Homo sapiens: one gene and its partners. The protein of the gene in region 1 interacts with the protein of each later gene in a biochemical or structural test. Each region holds a gene or a part of one and is shown in the gene's direction. Other genes may lie near its edges.

Evidence for each region.
Region 2: of the proteins of RNF138 (region 1) and TCF7L2, one has a biochemical effect on the other in vitro, tested with the Homo sapiens proteins (one study listed by BioGRID).
Region 3: of the proteins of RNF138 (region 1) and RAD51D, one has a biochemical effect on the other in vitro, tested with the Homo sapiens proteins (one study listed by BioGRID).

The regions. Positions count from the first base shown.
Region 1 is NC_000018.10:32,087,595-32,094,932, forward strand, and holds the start of RNF138 (E3 ubiquitin-protein ligase RNF138), read left to right. Parts: upstream 1-4,279; 5' UTR 4,280-4,641; intron 4,642-5,093; exon of another isoform or gene 5,094-5,105; 5' UTR 5,106-5,182; coding exon 5,183-5,292; intron 5,293-6,909; exon of another isoform or gene 6,910-7,012; intron 7,013-7,338. UniProt on the Homo sapiens protein: E3 ubiquitin-protein ligase involved in DNA damage response by promoting DNA resection and homologous recombination.
Region 2 is NC_000010.11:113,163,206-113,168,253, forward strand, and holds the end of TCF7L2 (transcription factor 7-like 2), read left to right. Parts: intron 1-2,349; coding exon 2,350-2,767; 3' UTR 2,768-4,473; downstream 4,474-5,048. UniProt on the Homo sapiens protein: Participates in the Wnt signaling pathway and modulates MYC expression by binding to its promoter in a sequence-specific manner. Acts as a repressor in the absence of CTNNB1, and as activator in its presence.
Region 3 is NC_000017.11:35,109,847-35,116,962, reverse strand, and holds part of RAD51D (DNA repair protein RAD51 homolog 4), read left to right. Parts: coding exon of another isoform or gene 1-104; intron 105-7,116. UniProt on the Homo sapiens protein: Involved in the homologous recombination repair (HRR) pathway of double-stranded DNA breaks arising during DNA replication or induced by DNA-damaging agents. Bind to single-stranded DNA (ssDNA) and has DNA-dependent ATPase activity.

The DNA.
Region 1 (7,338 bases):
GTGCGTGAGAGTAAAGGTAAAATATGGTTAGAGTTTTCCCTACACAATTGGTTATTGTGGAGGTTAAAGAACTCCATCATGGATGTTAACATGCTAGGTTGACTTCTGATTAACCCCAGTTCCAGGAATGCCCCTAAGAGTTCTTCTTTATGATTCCTTGTGTAAAAAGAGCATGGTCTTAATCATAAATCCTGCCCTTAAGCAAATTATAGGCTGTAATGCACATAGTATTCTTGTCTTTCCCTCAGGGGTGAACTTTAATTTTCCTGCACATTATGTATACCCTTTCCTTATGGTCTGCAGGATAACAATACGAAGATCCACCTGTCTTGCTGCTGCCCAAGACCACACTTCCATCCACAAGTTCCCCAGTAAATCACCTGCTACCAGCAAACTGGATTTGTTTGCCTCTTCTTTGGATTTTTGGCTTCTTCTGCATTTGAGAGTCACTTTGCATATATAGCCCTTTCATGGAACAGTTGTGTATGTACATAGTCAAGAGTAATATTTAGCTAATATTTGCTAAAATAAAAATATTTAGCAACTGGAACCAAATTGGCACTGGTCATTCAGGACAGACTACTCACCAGTCAGGATGGACAAGGCTGAAAAAGACTAGGAAAATGGTACTGGTACAAACCAGCTGAGTGTCAACACTGCACATGGTAGCAATTTACAAAGATACCAAAGGGTAGAGAGTGAAACATGAGCCTCTCTCCTGTTCCATCCTCCAGCTTCCCAGTTCACTTCTTCAAAGGCAATCACTTTTACCAGCAAAACAGGATTTTGAAGGTTTGTAGTAAGATAAAGCCAGGCCTTGTCAAGAAATCAGTATTCTAAATTATTTTATTTTTCTCTTTTGCATATCAAGATCCATCGAACTTGACTGGAGAGTTTTATTTACTTATTTTGATTTTTTATTTTTTGAGACAGAGTCCCGCTCTGTCACCCAGGCTGGAGAGCAGTGGTGCCATCTCAGCTCACTGCAACTTCTGCCTCCTGGGTTCAAGCCACTCTTCTGCCTCAGCCTCTGGAGTAGCTGGGACTATAGGCATGCATACCATGCCCGGTTAATTTTTGTATTTTAGTAGAGACAGGTTTCGCCATGTTGTCCAGGCTGGTCACGAACTCCTGACCTCAAGTGATCTGCCTGCCTCGGCCTCCCAGAGTGCTGGGATTAGGAGCATGATCCACCACGCCTGGTCTTGACTGGAGAGTTTTAGAGCACCCAATCAGCAAGAAGTGGCAAGGGGAAAAGTCCATTCCTTCTAATCCAAGAGACTGTAGGAGAAGAAACAAAGTAGGGGCTTCATTCTGGGGGGGAAAGGTGGTTTAGATGGGTTGGAGTGTGTGCCCTGGAAGCACATGGCCTTACAGGCTGTTCAGAACCAGAGGGAGAACCACAAAGGATGTCATAGACAGTAGTTGTGTTGAGAGCCAGAGAGCCTGCTAAGGAGCCTGCCATGTTGAGGGTTAAGGAATTGGAAGGTGATCGTGGCAGGAATCAGAAGGTTTTACAGTGTTGGTGAAGCTAGGACATATCTCAGGGCCTTGGCCCAGCTGAGAGACAGGTCCGAGCAATCTTCATCAGCAAGTTTCAGCAAGAGAACACCCAGGACACATTACATCTCAAGGAGCAGAGAAAATTAGTCTGGCTAAAGAAAATCCGGCAAAAATGCAAAAGAGAACTTGCAGATTTCAGGAGCCAGATTCCCCTATAGTGCCTTGAGTTCATGTCAGCTACCCATCATCCTCCCTTCCCTTCTCCCAAATGCCATTCTGAGGGAAGCCCACTGAGAGGGACTGACTGGTTTAACCCAAACTTAAAGGAACTGTTTAAATTATTGCAGCACAGTTTACCAAATCGGTCTACATCTAGGGTTTTCCCTTCTAATGACCAAAGGCTGAGGACATTTTATTTACGCAGCTGAATGTATTTTGAGTAAATCTATGACATTCTTATAAAAATATCAAGTAGCTTTTCACCAGAAATGTTGCCAAGAAAGAAGATTGTGTCATTGGTAATTGCAACTTATTTTTTTAAGCTTAACTTTCCAAGGGTATCTATATTTTTCTTATGTCCAAGTTTTTGCTGGATTTCCACATATTGCCAGCTATATGCTTACGTGTATACCGAATGACTTATTAGAATATATGGGGGAGTGATACAAATATGTTTGGATTAGACATAAGTAAAGCTGCCGTTGCAGAGAAAGAATGAAGCAAATAAAATTAGGGTCACAAAATTAATGTTATGGTTAGATATTCCCAATGAATAATGGGAAACACTATTATACAGAAAATACACCTTACTTCCTAAATGGTCAGAATGAATGAAATGAGTGGAATTATCAAAAAAGTAAAATGTAGGCCAGGCACAGTGGCTCAGGCCTGTAATTCCAGCACTTTGGGAGGCCAAGGTGGGCGGATCGCTGGAGGCCAGGAGTTCGAGACTAGCCTGGCCAACATGGCAAAACCCTGTCTCTACTAAAAATGCAAAAATTAGTTTGGCATGGTGGTGCATGCCTGTAATCTCAGCTACTTGGGAGGCTGAGGCAGGAGAGTTGCTTCAACCTGGAAGGCGCAGGTTGAAGTGAGCTGAGATCATTCCACTGCACCCCAGCCTGGGTGACAGAGTGAGATTCTGTCTCAAAAGAAAAAAGAAAAAAAGTGAGTTTTCTTCTCTGGGCTGTTAAAAATTTGAACTCAAAGAACCATTTTATAAGTGAATGTGAAAAGCACCTGAACTACTGCTATTAGCTGCCCCTCTCGTCACGTGCTCTTCCTCCTTCCAGGAAATCTGAAGCTAGTATTAGCTTTCTTGTCTTGCTTCCACTGCGCTTGCTGCTAAGGAGGAAAAGCAACAAAAATACAAAATATAGTTTGGTAGAGGGAATTAGCTATTCATTGGACAAATTATTATTATTCTAGGAATCAATGCTTTTGAGATGTACATTAAAACCCATTTCCTCCATAAAGTTTTCTGTTAACTCTATATATTTCTAATCATTCCATTTCCTATCCTCATTATAGCCATCGTTTAATGCAAAATTTAATACTTTGGCAAATACCATTTTTTCTCTCTCATTCTGATAGATATGTAATAATGTAAACAGGTTGAGAGCAAAGTTCATGACATCTGCATAACACCTAACAATGCCAATGTCAACATAGACAATAAATGGCAGAATTGATTTAAATAGTCCCTTAAATGGCTTCTGTTTATTCATTTAGACCATGGGGGAGGGTTTTAACAAAGGATGGTAATAAAACCTTTCTTTTCTCTGAAGCTAATTGTAGATGCTGTATAATGTTCCAGATTTTCCTTAGCTTCTTTCACGTCATTGTGGATCCCATCTTATCGATTTATCCTTTTTTTGTTCTTCTTTTTTTTTGAGAGTCTCACTCTGTCGCCAGGGCTGGAGTGCAGCGGCGCGATCGCGGCTCACTGCAACCTCTGCCTCCCGGGTACAAGCGATTCTCGTGCCTCAGCCTCCCGAGTACCTGGGATTACAGGCTCCCACCACCATGTCCGGTTAATTTTTGTATTTTTAGTAGAGATGGGATTTCATCACGTTGGCCAGGCTGGTCTTGAACTCCTGACCTCAAGTGATCCAACCGCCTTCGCTTACCAAAGGGCTGGGATTACAGGTGTGAGCCACCGCGCCCGGCCTTTTTTCTTTCTTTTTTTTTTTTTTTTTTGAGACGGAATCTCACTCTGTTACGCAGGTTGGACCATCTTATAGATTATCAATTGTACAGATAATTGCACTCCGGCCTGGGAGACAGAGTGAGTACCTGTCTCAAAAAATAAAATAAAATAAAATAAAATTAAAAAAAACACTTAAATTAGTGAATAACCTTGGTGAAAAGCCACGTCCATGCTTCTACGGCATTTCTCTTCAAAGCTAAAAAAAAAAAGAAAAAATCAAAAATCAACCCAAAGGTGTAGTAGAAGACTGCATCTGCGACCGTATTTAAGCATCGGTCATGCTGTTAAAGGAGAAAGTGGACATCCTCTCAAGGAAACTTTAATCCTGCCCCCAAAGGATTAAAATCCCGTAACAAATATTTGTTTATAACACATCTTGACAAGATCAAAACATTCTGGTAGGGCAAATAGTAAAGACTAAATCTTGAACATTGACGAAAACTTCCTGAAAGGCCCAATGTATTTGACAGGAGAGGTAACTGGGGTCCCGGGCCTAGCGAGGCGGGGCGGGGAGGCGCAGGTGTCACCGCGGGCGCCCAGCTGCTTACGTCACAACCCGCGGAAGGCGCCGTGCGCCGGTTGCTATACAGGCCGCACTTCACACCCCGTGCCTCCCCGCCTCTCCTGGCTCCTCCGCCCAGATCCCCGGCGCTCCCGCGTTCGGTGACGGCCGGGTAGGCTGTAGGCAGCGCAATGCCAAGACAGAGCTGCTGGCGGCGGCGGGCGAATCTCCCTGCACCATGAGCCTCGGCTCCGGCCCCGTTAGGGGCCGATAAGCACAGCGCACGCCGCCCTCCATTTGCCCCGGGGCCTCGGCTGCGAAGATAGCGGCGGCCGGACAGGAAGCTCGAGGAAAGCGCTGGGCCGGGTCTCTACGAACACGTGAAGGAAAAGCAGCTCCGTCCACAACGCCGCTTCGGGGCTCCTAGGTGAGAGTCTCCCCGGCGGAAGCGTGGAGGGGCCGGGGTGCCGGGAAGCGGGGCGGGGAGGAAGCCGCGGACACGGGCTGGGCACTCGGGGCTCGGGGTCGGGGTGAGTAGAGGCGGAAAAGCAGTGAAAAGGGAGGCCTTGGGCGAAGACGGGGGCTGAGGGCGGGGCGCGAGCCCGCGCCTGGAGCCCGGTGAGGGCGTGGCCTAGAGCGTGAGGCCGCGTCCTGGGGCGGGGTGAGGGGCGAGCGGGGCGGGCCCACGGCATGCTGCGAGCCCAGCCTCCCGCCAAGCACCGTCCCCCATCCAGCCCCCTGTGGGAGGAGCCGTGGGAGGGGTCGCCTCTTGCCCGGCGCGTGCGGCAGTAGCGTCTCTGCGTTCGGCCCCGCCCTACCCAGGGCCCCGCCCCCTTCCTGGCGCGCGCTGTATCCTGATGCGATCCCCCTCCCCCCTCCGGGTTCATGTAGGGAGTCGGGCCCCGGGCCGCCACCGTCACCTCGGCCGCTGCCGCTGTCGCCATCGCCTTGTTTCCCCATCCCCCGCCATGGCCGAGGACCTCTCTGCGGCCACGTCCTACACCGAAGATGATTTCTACTGCCCCGTCTGTCAGGAGGTGCTCAAAACGCCCGTGCGGACCACGGCCTGTCAGCACGTGTGAGTAGACGCCCCCTCCCCCTCGCGGAGCCGGGTTGTCGCTTAGGCCCGGCCTCCGGCCCGGGACCCCGGGCTGCCGCCTGGCGGGAACCGAGCCCGCCGCGGCCTGCCCGAGCGTCGCTGCCCCGCGAGGTCCCGTTCCCCGCCCCTCAGAGTCCCGGGGCGGCCTTTTCCTCAGCCTCGGGGCCCGCTCCCCGCGTCCAGCCCCCTCAGCCCAAGCTCCCGCTCTCCCGCTCTCCCGCTCTCCCGCTCTCCCGCTCTCCCTGGCTTTCGCGCCCCCGGGGCAGTGGCCAGGCCGTTCCCTGCGGCGTCTTCAGGCCCCGGAGGCCCCTGTCGTCTCCGCCAGGCCCGGGAGGAATTGCAGGGATCTTGGAGCCTTTTTGTTTCTTAGCAACCCGGGTGAAGGCTGGGGTGTCGAGTGTCAAAAGCGGCCGGCGGTGCTCGCGCGGGCCCGCTCGCCCCGCGACCTGCCCTGCTTTCAAGTTTCCTCTTTCAGAACCTTGGTCCGTCCCCTCGGTCCAAGAGCTCTTCTGTAACTTCCCCTCAACCCTGCTTCACAGAACACCCTCGAGAGCGTTTTGTTTCGTTTCCAGTCCACTATGTGTTAGAGGGATCTAGAATGAGTTTTCTTCTCTGGTCTCTTAAAACTGACAGGATTTTCGGGCATTGAAATGAGCGTTCCCCTTTGTTTTACCTTTCTGCTTACTTATTACTTGATTAATACAAGGGTGGAGAGGAGAAAGGAAGACTTCTGTTATGAGGAATGAGCCGAAATTGAGATGCTACCCAGGGTGGGGGAGAACACAAAGGGGTTGGGTGAGATAACGCATGCGTTTGATTGGCAGGCATATTTACAAGAACTTTGATAAAATTTTATGGACAGCTAGGGTGTGAGTAAGGGTTGGAAAGAGCCCTTGTTGAGAAGGTGTATAGCCCTTCTGACAGACCTGACTGATGATCAGAGTCCCCGGGGAACTTTTTAAGTAAACATACCAATTCCCAGGCTCCATTTCAAACTTAACAAAAGAATGTTCGGGCAGGTGGGGCCTGGAAATCTTTATTTATTTATTTATTGTATTTTTTTTTAGTAGAGACGGGGTTTCACCGTGTTAGCAAGGATGGTCTCGATCTCCTGACCTCGTGATCCTCCCGCCTCGGCCTCCCAAAGTGCTGGGATTAAAGGCGTGAGCCACCGCGCCCCGCCCGGAAATCTTTATTTTTAAAAAACACACTCAGGCTTGAAAGTTACGTGTGTTTGCAAACAACTGAAAAGAATTGACCAACCTTCTAAATGTATTTCATTCTCCTTCGACTTTTTTTTCTTTTTTTTTTGAGGTGAGGTTCTATAATTTTGTAAAGGATGGATTGAATTTTTGGTTCTTAATTGCAAATGCCCTTACTGTGGCTGTTTTCTTGATACCAACTCTTCTCATTTTTTCCCCAATCTTAACTGCACTGTCTACTTTATTTCTATTTTGTGCTGGTTGTGTGAGCCAAGAGTGTGTGGATTTTCATGATAGAAATTATGCCAGTTACGCTTTTGCTCTTTAAGGGAGATGAATGACATCTTGTTATTTTGTGCAACAAATGCAGATTCTTAGGGAAATGTTTTGAGGGATCCTTTTGCGGTTCATAGTGTGATGATTGAGTGTTCACAGGCATGTGTGAGATATGCCATCCTCAAACCTTGTTACAGGGTCAGCACATTACCCATCTGACATGAAAAAAAAAACGTTTGGAGGTGTCTAGGGCACAATATAGATCTTCCACCTTTAATCTAGCATAACTTGGTCCCTTTCCAATATTTAAAAAAAATTTAAGTGCTGTGTTGGCATTGGGTAGATAAAAGGGAGGGAGGAGAGCAAGGTGAGAGGAAGTTGTAATAGCTGCTAACTATATATATATATATAAAGCAGGTCTTTTTTGGATAGAATCATTCTAATTATCCTTTGGGTCATTGACCTAATGGGCCTCATTGTAGTTTTTAGCACTCCCCAAAATTCCGTGTAGATTGCTCTAGTCCGCTTCCCTTGTGGGACATTTTAA
Region 2 (5,048 bases), on another chromosome or scaffold:
GGGTGGGAGGGGTGAGGAAGGTACCAGAATGCTCCTAGCCAATCAGGGCTTCTAGCTTGCCACACAAGGTTTCTAGTTTCATTTGACATTTGTGGACATTTTAACAAGATTCTGTTTTGAGCCCACCAAGTTGCTTTTCCCATCTTTTCACTCTGCCCTAATATAGCATGGAATGCTGCTTGGTGCTGTTCCCTTGTCTTCCTGGTTGTTCTCCCTGCTTCTTTCTTTCTCCCTTTCCTTTCCTCTCTCTGTTTTTCTCTGTTGCTTTCTCAGTTTTGCTTATGCCCTCCCCCTCCCCACCTCCTTTCCTTCTCCCATTTTTAAAATGCATGGACATCTTAGTTTTTTGAGCATGTTTTGATCTGCAGGCTAAGGTGGTTTAAAACTCTGAGAGGCTTAATTATTTATCTTGGTTTCTGGGATGGAAGCAGAACCCATAGTCTATTTACTCTCTCCCAGGGAGAAAAAGGAACCTTGCCAAATTGAGGGTGAGAGGGGGTGGTGCTTGCTCCCCTAGAGTTCCTTCTGACCCAGAAGGAACAGACAGACCCTGAGGCCACTAGCCCCCATGAATCTCAGCCTCTGGGAGGCAGGGAGGACTGAGCATGCTCCCTTACACCCCTCCCCTCCTTCCCTGCCTTCCTGCCATCTTGCTGAGTCCAAACCCCAAGCACAGAGGGGCATGATCAGACAGCTCTGGGGCACAGACTGAGAGGAGGAACTCAGCACACCCTTCCTTTCCAAGGCCAGTGACATTGTCTGACAGTGGTTGCCTTCAAGCAGGCAGCATCTTGGTTGCTTCCAGCGGCAGAAAGCTGGCCAGTGCTTACACACGTGTTTCCAGTTGGAGTGTTATCAGCCATGGTTCTGACAATATTCTAGGGTCCTTAGATGAGCACACTTCCTGTATCTGCATTATTTTTATAGCATTAGTGGGGTTGATCCCCAGGCTCACCTTTCCTTACCAAATACCATCCCATCAGACTGGGATTAATGGGAGGAGAAGCTTTGAAGTCACATGCTCAATTTCTTGAGTTGATTTTCCCCGACCTCATCCTTTGATGCTAAGCAAGAAGGGCTCTGAAATTCTCATTCCTATTTCTTACATGAATGAGTAGTGAAGAGGGGAGATGCTGGTTTTGGTGCAGGGCAAAATTAGTCTTTCTGGTTTAAACACGAATCACGATAACCCAAACCCAGGAAGGTCCATGCTGCGATTCCCTGGCACTTCTTCTTTGTAGTCACTTCGGTGACCGGCTTGTGCTGCACCCTCCATTGACTAGCCTTGGCATATTGACAAGAGCAGGATGCCCCTCCATCCATCCCATCCTCACCATCTCTCCTTCCAACCTTCTCACTACGGGGTGGGGGAGGGGAAAGCCCCAAATCTTAAAAAAAAAAAAAAAATCAAGTTTGAATCTTAATTTAATCCACAACCTGCAGGCCATACAACCAGTTATTCTCGTTCCTTTGAATCATTTTCTGTTTTTCTTATTCTTCCCCCTCCCCCACCTTTGTTTATCCTCTTCTACCTGTTTTTGGTGGTTTCTTTTTTTTGTTTCGTTTTTTGTTTTTTGTTTTTGTTTTAAGTTTATTTTGTTTTATTTTTGTTTCCCTTCCTCCCTTCTCACCTGATTCTGACCTCTCTTGATTTGGTGTGGTTCTTAACAGACAAGCCCGAAAGCTCTCTGGGCGCCAGCAGCCTCATGGTGGTGGTGTGTTAAAACCTTTAAGCCTCTTGCTAGCGCTGCCTTCAGCTATGTGGGCTCAACAGTGAGCATTTTGAGAGTTTCATATTGATACGAGGCGGCTGGGGAAGGAGCTCTGTCTTTCTCTTTTAAACACACACACACTCACACTCACACACTCACACACACACATCACTGGGGGATGGGGGTGGTAGTGGTGGGAATGGGAGTGAAGGGCCGAGGAAACTTGATGGGAAAGTGAGGGACTGTCTAAGCCAAAAGAGCTTTTCAGTTCTTCTCAATTTGGACAAAGCCACTTTTTGGCAAATAGATGCCACCATCTGCAGGTGGCCGCCTCCATGCTGCTCTCGTATATAATTTGGGCATGGTGGGGCATGGGTGTTTAGTAGGGGTTGGGGGAAGCAAGTAGAGAGTTCAGACTCTTAAATAAGTTGTTTGCCAGAGCAGGCTTAGATCTGGGCACTGTGAAGTAAGCGACCCACCCTGGGGGGGCGCCACTGTAATTGTCCTCGGACCACTGGGCGTGCCACCTCTGTGGGACATCCCTTAGGTGACCTCAGCTTGGGTGTGAGCATTAGGTAACTCTCTCCCTTGGCATCTGTGCCCTCTATTCACAGATAACTCTCTCCCCTGTTTCTAGGAGAAAAAAAAAGTGCGTTCGCTACATACAAGGTGAAGGCAGCTGCCTCAGCCCACCCTCTTCAGATGGAAGCTTACTAGATTCGCCTCCCCCCTCCCCGAACCTGCTAGGCTCCCCTCCCCGAGACGCCAAGTCACAGACTGAGCAGACCCAGCCTCTGTCGCTGTCCCTGAAGCCCGACCCCCTGGCCCACCTGTCCATGATGCCTCCGCCACCCGCCCTCCTGCTCGCTGAGGCCACCCACAAGGCCTCCGCCCTCTGTCCCAACGGGGCCCTGGACCTGCCCCCAGCCGCTTTGCAGCCTGCCGCCCCCTCCTCATCAATTGCACAGCCGTCGACTTCTTCCTTACATTCCCACAGCTCCCTGGCCGGGACCCAGCCCCAGCCGCTGTCGCTCGTCACCAAGTCTTTAGAATAGCTTTAGCGTCGTGAACCCCGCTGCTTTGTTTATGGTTTTGTTTCACTTTTCTTAATTTGCCCCCCACCCCCACCTTGAAAGGTTTTGTTTTGTACTCTCTTAATTTTGTGCCATGTGGCTACATTAGTTGATGTTTATCGAGTTCATTGGTCAATATTTGACCCATTCTTATTTCAATTTCTCCTTTTAAATATGTAGATGAGAGAAGAACCTCATGATTCTACCAAAATTTTTATCAACAGCTGTTTAAAGTCTTTGTAGCGTTTAAAAAATATATATATATACATAACTGTTATGTAGTTCGGATAGCTTAGTTTTAAAAGACTGATTAAAAAACAAAAAGAAAAAAAAAGCAATTTTGAAGCAGCCCTCCAGAAGGAGTTGGTTCTGTATTATTTGTATTAAATACGAGCTTGCGAACCAATCATTTTACATCTGGTTTTTAAACCGTAAGGGCACCATGAATGCAGTGCCGTTACTTTTTTTTTTTTTTTCTGTGTGAAACAACTCTTATTGTGATGTTACTTGTTATTGTTTAAATGTACAGAAACAAAGGGTAAAAATGTGTTAATATACCTTGTTCCATGGTGTTGTTCTTTTGGGGGGAGGGGACGCTACTCAACACTTAATAGAATCACAACGCTGTTGGGCCAGTAGTATTTATTGCTTTAGAGATTGCTTGTCGTACCTGTATGTCGTCCCTTTTTAAATATGTTTTCCTTTTTCTTGAAACTGTATAAAGTTTTTTTCCCCCTTAGCATAAGCATCTTATATATAACAACTCATTTGTACAAGGTTTTTAAGTTTATATATAAAATGTGTATATATATTTTTGTTTCCCCTTTTTGACTTTTTTTTTTCTGTATGAAACCCAGATGTCACCAAATGGACATTAATAGTTGCATTAAGGATCAGTAGCATTAACAAAAGTTGCTTTAAAAGCCATTATGTAAAACAAGACTTGAAAATGAGTGAGGGAATTTTAGCGACACTGTCTGAGCAGCAGTGGGAACCATCTTCGTTTCCCCTTTGAACTCCCAGTGGGATGCCCTACCCTGCGCCCTTAGGACCCGGACTGACCGTGTACAAAACTTTACGTGCCAAAATTCTCAGTGAATTTAGCTTTCTCCCTCTTTTTGATGCTGTAATTTTTGTTCATCATGTTTTGCTGTGATGTTACATAGGTAGATTTGTATGTAGTTTTAATGTCACCTATAACAAAATGTGTTTGGTAGCAGATTGTCCAGAAAGCATTTTAAATGAAGAGGTATAAACCCTTAAGGGCCAAAATTCTGTATATTAGATTACTCTTAAACGAAAAACCAGCTGCCGCTTTTATGTACACATATTACATACGAGTAGGCAGCAGACTTTAAAAATAAAAAAAACCTAGGCATGTTGATGTTGCAAAATGCTGTATAAAGCTGAAACCTGTTCATTCAGTGCCATTGTAGTTGACATGAAGCGATTGTAAAACTGTCTCCGATTTTTCTCTGGTTTATTAAAATGCTAACTATAACATTTTTTGTGAATACTTTGAATGTTTCCTAACAGTTGTGATGTTACTGTTCCGTTTTATGCTCTTATTCCAAGTTCATTTTTAATGGTTTGGAAGCCATTTTTGTAATGAATAAATGTTCATGCTGTACAGTATCTGTAGCATGCCGTTCTGGATTAATAAAAGCAACTTAGTATGTGCAGATAAAGGCTGGTCACTTGTTTCTGTGATTTGGATTTTTATCTCTAGGGAAACTGGACCTACCGTAATCAAGAAAAACATATTCCCACGTTGGAACTTGACCATACAGTTAGTGTGTAGGTGATGACTTAGATACCAGAACGTGGTCTTGGACTCTTTTGAGGGGTTGATCCCCTCCCCTCCATCCTCGTGGCCCATTTGGTGTATCTGGTTTGCATAATGTGTCATTTGCAATGGAGATGATCAGTATCAAAGGGGATCCCTGGTGTGTGTCTTCTGTAGTATTTCACCGTGCCATTCCCAGTAGTTTGTTGCTGAAAGCAAAGCACAGTTACAGAGCAAATGTCACTTTTTTGGGGGCTATAAACCAGTTTCTCTGAAATATCCTACTCATCCTCTCACAGTAGCAAGCAGAAAGAATTTAATTCTGGTGAATGAGACTTAGTCCACCAAGAGTGCACTTAAGAAACCACATCCTTAGCAGTTAAGGATCATGGGTGTGAAAGCATCCTAACCTCCAAGAGTTGCATCCTGGGAGAGATGCAAGGGTATCAAACTGCCCTTTCTCTAGCAGTGAGCGAT
Region 3 (7,116 bases), on another chromosome or scaffold:
GGGGTCAGGAATGCTCTGAAGAAGGCAGGACTTGGGCATGGAGGAACAGATGGACTTTCGCTGAATGCTTTCGATGAACGAGGCACTGCGGTCAGCACTTCACGGTACATTATTTCATTTATTCGTCACAACCACCAATGAGCATGTTACTGTTTAAATCATCATTCTAGGCCGGGCGCAGTGGCTCACGCCTGTGATCACAGCACTTTGGGAGGCTGAGGTGGGCGGATCATGAGGTCAGGAAATCGAGACTGTCCTGGCTAACACGGTAAAACCCCGTCTCTACTAAAAGTACAAAATATTAGCTGGGCGTGGTGGCGGGCGCCTGTAGTCCCAGCTACTCGGAAGGCTGAGGCAGGAGAATAGCATGAACCCGGGAAGCGGAGCTTGCAGTGAGCGGAGATCGCACCACTGCACTCCAGCCTGGGCAACAGGGCAAGACTCCATCTCAAAAAAATAAAATAAAATAAAATAAAATAAAAATAAATCATCATTCTATAGGTGAAGAAATTGGGACTCAGGTTAAATGACTTGTTCAAGATTGTGCAGTTAGCAAACGGCAGACCAGTTATTTGAGTTCATGCTTGTCACACTCCTAAGTCTAAGAACGCGGCTCTTAACTCATCTGCCCGGCTGTCTCCCTGGAGGCGGGAGGCCATTGTGAAAGCAGGGTTATAGACAGTGGGGTAGAGGTGTGCAGGGTGGAAGGGTGGCAGAGGCCAAGCAGGGCCCTGGCAGTGCTGGCCTGGGGTATGTGAGTCCAGTCTAGAACAGTGGGAGACATGTTGAAGAGGAACTGTGACAAGACCTACTACCAGGAGGAATGTATTGTGAAGAATCAAAGCTGACTCACCAGGTTTCTAGCCTTTCTTTCTTTCTTTCTTTTTTTTTTTTGTCGGAGTTTGGAATGTATTGTGAAGAATCAAAGCTGACTCACCAGGTTTCTAGCCTTTCTTTCTTTCTTTCTTTCTTTCTTTCTTTCTTTCTTTCTTTCTTTCTTTCTTTCCTTTCTTCCTTTTCTTTCTTCCTTCCTTCCTTCCTTCCTTCCTTCCTTCCTTCCTTCCTTTCCTTCTTTCCTTCTTTCTTTCTTTTTTTTGACGGAGTTTCACTCTGTTGCCAGGCTGGAGTGCAGTGGCGTGATCTCGGCTCACTGCAACCTCCGCCTCCAGGGTTCAAGTGATTCTCCTGACTCAGCCTCCCGAGTAGCTGGGACTACAGGTGCGTGCCATCAACGCCCAGCTAATTTTTTGTATTTTTAGTAGAGATGGACTTTCGCCATGTTGGCCAGGATGGTCTCGATCTTCTGACCTCGTGATCCGCCCGCCTTGGCCTTCCAAAGTGCTGGGATTACAGGCGTGAGCTACCATGCCCAGTCTCTAGCCTTTCTTACCGTGTGCTGTGGACAGTTAATGGTGTAACTTTAAAACTTGGGAGGAGGGGAGTTCTGTAGTCAGAAGTTTGAGAAATGCCTGACTAATCCAAATTAAACAGGTTTCTCTGTTGTAGGCCGCCTCAGAACCTTTAGTGCTGAGGTGCAATGATTCCTTACAGGGTGTTATAGCATGTAACGTACTTTGGGAAAAGCTATGTTGATGAGGGAGATTGATTATTCCTTATAGGCCAGAGCTAGGTCTGTTCATCCCACAGTCCCCTCATTTTAGAATAAGACTGTCAGGAAATATGAGGCATTGAAGTGGTGTGTGAATGGATGACTGAAAGAATGGCTAAAAGGCAGTTCAGAGGGAAAGGCAGAGGATAAGTCCCAGAAATCACCTGTATTCTAGGCAGTGGTAAAACCCAGGTGTACTTCTGCTTCATGGGGCAAGACAGGGGTCTCTCCCTGTTGACATGCGGAGTTAAAGGTGATGGGGACATATTGGTAGGAAGGTTCTCTGGGCAGTCGGAGAGGCACGGAATGGAAACTCAGGTGAGAAGTTGGCTGGAAGGTGGATTTGGGAATACCTTATACAGACTGATCTCCACAGCCAAGGATGTGGTTGATTCTTGACTAGAGTCAACACCAGTGCTTCAACCCCAGCTGCACGTTAGAATCATCTGGGAAACTTGAGATATTCATGCTCTGGTCCCAACTCTATATATTCTAATTTAATTAGTCTAGGTCAGTGGTTCCCAAACTTGTGTGCCCATTGGAGTCACCTGAGGACTCTTTTAAACATTACGAAGTCCAAGTCTCCCCCAGACCAATTAATCTCATTCACTGTGAGTGGGACACAGGCATCAGTATTTTTTAATTTTTTAATTTGTTTTTTAGAGACAGGGTCTTGCTCTGTTGCCCAGGCAGGAGTGCAGTGGTGCACAATCATAGTTCACTGCAGCCTTGAACTCCTGGACTCAGGCAGTCTCCCTGCCTCAGCCTCCCAAGTAGCTGGGACTACAGGTGCTCACCACCATGCCTGGCTAATTAAAAAAAATTTTTTTTTTTTGTAGAGACAGGGGTCTTGCTGTGTTGCCAAGGCTGGTCTCAAATTCCTGGGCTCAAGCAATCCTACCTCTGTCTCCCAAAGTGTTGAGATGACAGGTATGAGCCACCATGCCTGGCCAGGCATCAGTATTTTTTTGAAGCTCCCAGGTGAATCCAATGTGCAGACAACTTTGGGTACTGCTGACATAGGCATTTTTTAAAAAACTCCCCTGATTTTATTTTATTTAATTAATTAATTTTATTTTTTTGAGACGGAATCTTGCTCTGTCGCCCAGGCTGGGGTGCAGTGGCGCGATCTCGGCTCACTGCAAGCTCCACCTCCCGGGTTCATGCCATTCTCCTGCTTCAGCCTCCCAAGTAGCTGGGACTACAGGCGCCCGCCACCACGCCCAGCTAATTTTTTGTATTTTTAGTAGAGACGGAGTTTCACCGTGTTAGCCGGGATGGTCTCGATCTCCTGACCTCGTGATCCACCCGCCTCGGCCTCCCAAAGTGCTAGGATTACAGGCGAGAGCCACTGCGTCCAGCCAACTCCCCTGATTTTAATGTGCAGGCAGGATTGAGACTAACTACTCTAGTCTAATGGTTCTGAAACTTGAGCAGGCTTCAAAATCACTTGGAGGCCTTGTTGAAACTCAAGTTTCAAGTGTGGGCTGCATTCCCAGAGTTTCTGATTCAGTAGGTCTTGGGGAGCGGAGCTGTGAATTTGCATTTCTAGCTAGTCCTTAAAGGTTGCTGATGCACCTGGTCTGGGGACCACACTGGGGTTCCTCTGATCTCAATGGGAAGAATGGAATCAGGAGTGGTAGAGGCTGGATACTTATTAAACAGAGATGGGGTGAGCACAATTATCTCAAGAAGCCACAGGGCTAGAGTGGTAACCAGAGTGTTTTGACTGGCAGGAACCTGTGGGTATAATCATGGGGAGTCCCTGGAATTAAAATGGTTGGGGGCCAGGCACGGTGGCTCATGCCTATAATCCCAGCACTTTGGGAGGCCAAGGCGAGTGGGTCACCTGAGGTCAGGAGTTTGAGACCAGCCTGGCCAACATGGCGAAACCCCATCTCTACTAAAAATACAAAAATTAGCCAGGCGTGGTGGTGGGTGCCTATAATCCCAGCTACTCGGGAGGCTGAGGCAGGAGAATTGTTTGAACCCGAGAGGCGGAGGTTGCAGTGAGCCGAGAGCACACCACTGCACTCCAGCCTGGTGACAGAGCGAGACTCCGTCTCAAAAAGAAAAAAAAAATGGATGGGATGCTTACTAAAGTGCTGTTCGGCATATACAGAGAGGTCATGGGAGGTCATCAAGAACCATCTCAAGGACTGGAACCTAGGAAGGTGATTGTAGGGCTAGGAAAGGTACGCATGTGATCAGGCATTGGTACAGGCCGTGGCATAGAAGAAACTTCAGCCTAGAGATAGGGCAGGGCATGGAGGGTAGGTGGTGACCTGTTTCATGTGGTTGAGGGAGAGAACCTGGTTTAGGAATTGGCATGTCATGAGGTTTATCCCAAGTCTTTCACAGCCAGTGTTGATGATACAGAAGCGAAATAAAAGTGATAGCACCTTTCTGTTACTCATTTTTCTGGAATGATTATTGGGTGCCTCCTGTGTTTCAGGCACTGTGCTAGTGCTGGGGATGCGACAGGGATCGGACCCAGTCCTTGCCCCATGGTGCTCTCAGCTAGATGAGCAAGACAAACAAAAACAAGCAAATAACAAATAATTACAAACTCCTAGGACTAGTGAGGATACAAGACCAACACATACAAATCAACTGCATTTCTCTATACTCACAGTGAACATGTCAAAACTAAAATAAAAAACACTACCATTTATTGGCCGGCCGCAGTGGCTCATGCCTGTAATCCCAGCACTTTGGAAGGTCGAGGCAAGTGGATCACCTGAGGTCAGGAGTTCGAGACCAGCCTGGCCAATATGATGAAACCTGGTCTTTACTAGAAATACAAAAATTAGCTGGGCGTGGTGGTGGGTGGTTGTAATCCCAGCCACTTGGGAGGCTGAGACGGGAGAATCACTTGAATCTGGGAGATGCAGGTTACAGTGAGCGGATATTGTGCCACTGCACTTCAACCTGGGTGACAGAGTGAAACTGTCTCAAAAAAACAAAACAAACAAAATGGCTGGGCGTGGTGGTTCACGCCTGTAATCCCAGCACTTTGGGAGGCTGAGGTGGGCAGATCACAAGGTCAGGAGATCGAGACCATCCTGGCTAACACAGAGAAACCCCATCTCTACTGAAAATACAAAAATTAGCTGGGCGTGGCAGTGTGTGCCTGTAGTCCCAGCTGCTGGGGAGGCTGAGGCACGAGAATGACGTGAACCTGGGAGGCAGAGCTTGCAGTGAGCCAAGATTGCGCCACTGCACTCCAGCCTGGGCGACAGAGCGAGACTCCGTCTCAAAAAAACAAGCAAATAAACAAACAAACAAAAACACAATGCCATTTATAGTTGTTTCAGAGAAATGAAATACTTGGGTATAAGTCTAACAAAGCATGTGTAGAATCTGTATGCTGAAAATTTTTAAATTGTTGATGAAAGAGATCAAAGATGACTCGGATAAATGGATGACATGTACTTTGTTCATGGATTGGGAGACTGAACATAATGAAGATTTCAATTGTCCCCAAGTTGATCTGTAATTTAACGCAGTTCCTATTAAAATCCCAGCAAGTTTTTTTTTTCTATAGACATAGACAAGCTTATTCTAATAATTACGGGAAGACCAGTTTTACCTAGATTAGCTAAAACAATTTGGAAAAAGGATAGCTGGAGGAATCAGTCTACCCAGGGTTAAGACTTGCTATATAGCTACATAATTAAGCCTAGTGTGGTATTGACCAAGGGACAGATGGACACAGATCAGTGGAACAGAATAGATAACCCAGAAATAGACCTCCACAAGTATACACAACTAATTTTTTTTTTTTTGAGACAGAGTCTTGCTCTGTCACCCAGGATGGAGGGTACTGCTGCTATTACAGCTCACTGCAGCCTTGACCTCCCTGGGCTCAGGCAATCCTTCCACCCCAAGCCTCCCGAGTAGCTGGGACTACAGGTGTGGGACACCATGCCTGGTTATTTGTATTTGTATTTTTTTTTTTTTAGACGGAGTTTCTCTCTCTCTCTTTTTTTTTTTTTTGAGATGGAGTTTCGCTCTTGTTGCCTGACCTGGAGTGCAATGGCGTGATCTCGGCTCACCGCAACCTCCGCCTCCCGGGTTCAAGCGATTCTCCTACAGGCACATGCCACCAGGCCTGGCTAACTTTTTTGTATTTTTAGTAGAGACGGGGTTTCTCCATGTTGGTCAGGCTGGTCTCGAACTCCTGACCTCAGGTGATCCACCCGCCTCGGACTCCCAAAGTGCTGGGATTACAGGTGTGAGTCAACGCGCCTGGCCTGAGTTTCTCTCTTTTTGCCCAGACTGGAGTGCAATGGCGTGATCTCGGCTCACTGCAACCCCCGCCTCCCGGGTTTGATTCACCTGCCTCGACCTCACGGGTAGCTGGGATTACAGGTGCATGCCACCATGCCCAGCTAATCTTGTATTTTTAATAGAGATGGGGTTTCACCATGTTGGCCAGGCTGGTCTTGAACTCCTGACCTCAGGTGATCGCCCGCCTCGGCCTCCCAAAGTGCTGGGATCACTGGCGTGAGCCACCGCGCCCAGCCTGTTTGTATTTTTTTTATAGAGACAGGGTTTCATTATGTTGCCCAGGCTGGCCTCAAACTCCTGGGCTCAAGCAATGCTCCCGCCTCAGCCTCCCAAAATGCTGGGATTACACACAATTGATTTTTGACAAGGGTACAGAAACAATGTGTTGGAGGAAAGACAGCCTTTGAACAAAGGGCGCTGGAGCTATTGGACATCATAGGCTAAAAATATACAATAATCAACCTAAACCTTATACCTTATACAAAAATTGAAAATGGATCATAGACTTAAATGTAAAACCAAATTGTCTAATTTTTAGAACAAAACAGGAGAAAATCTAGGCAAAGAGTTCTTAGATTTGATGCCAAAAGTATGATCCATGAAAAAATTTTTGATTAATGGGGCCTAATCAAAATTTAAAACTTTTGCTGTGCAAAACAGAATGAAAAGAGAAGTACAGAATGGGAAACATAGTTACAAGCCATGTATTCAACAAAGGACTTGTATCTAGAATGAAGAAAGAATTCTTAAAACCCAACAATAAAAAATCAAACAATTCAATTAGAAAATGGGCAAGGGCTGGCTCACACCTGTAATCCCAGCACTTTGAGAGGCTGAGGTGGTCAGATTGCTTGAGCCCAGGAGTTCAAAACTGGCCTGGGCAACGTGGCAAAAACCCTGTCTCTACCAAAAAAATACAAAAATTAGCTGGGTGTGGTGGCACATGCCTGTAGTCCCAGCTACTTGGGGGAGCTGATGTGGGAGGATCACCTCAGCCTGGGAGGTCAAGATTGCAGTGAGCTGTGACCATGCCACTGAATTCTAGCCTGGGTGACACAGTGAGACGTGAGACCCTATCTCAAAAAAAAAAAAAAAGCCAGGCGTGGTGGCTTACGCCTGTAATCCCAGCACTTCGGGAGGCCAAGGCAGGTTGATCACCTGAGGTCGGGAGTTTGAGATCAGCCTGACCAACATGAAGAAACCTCGTCTCTACT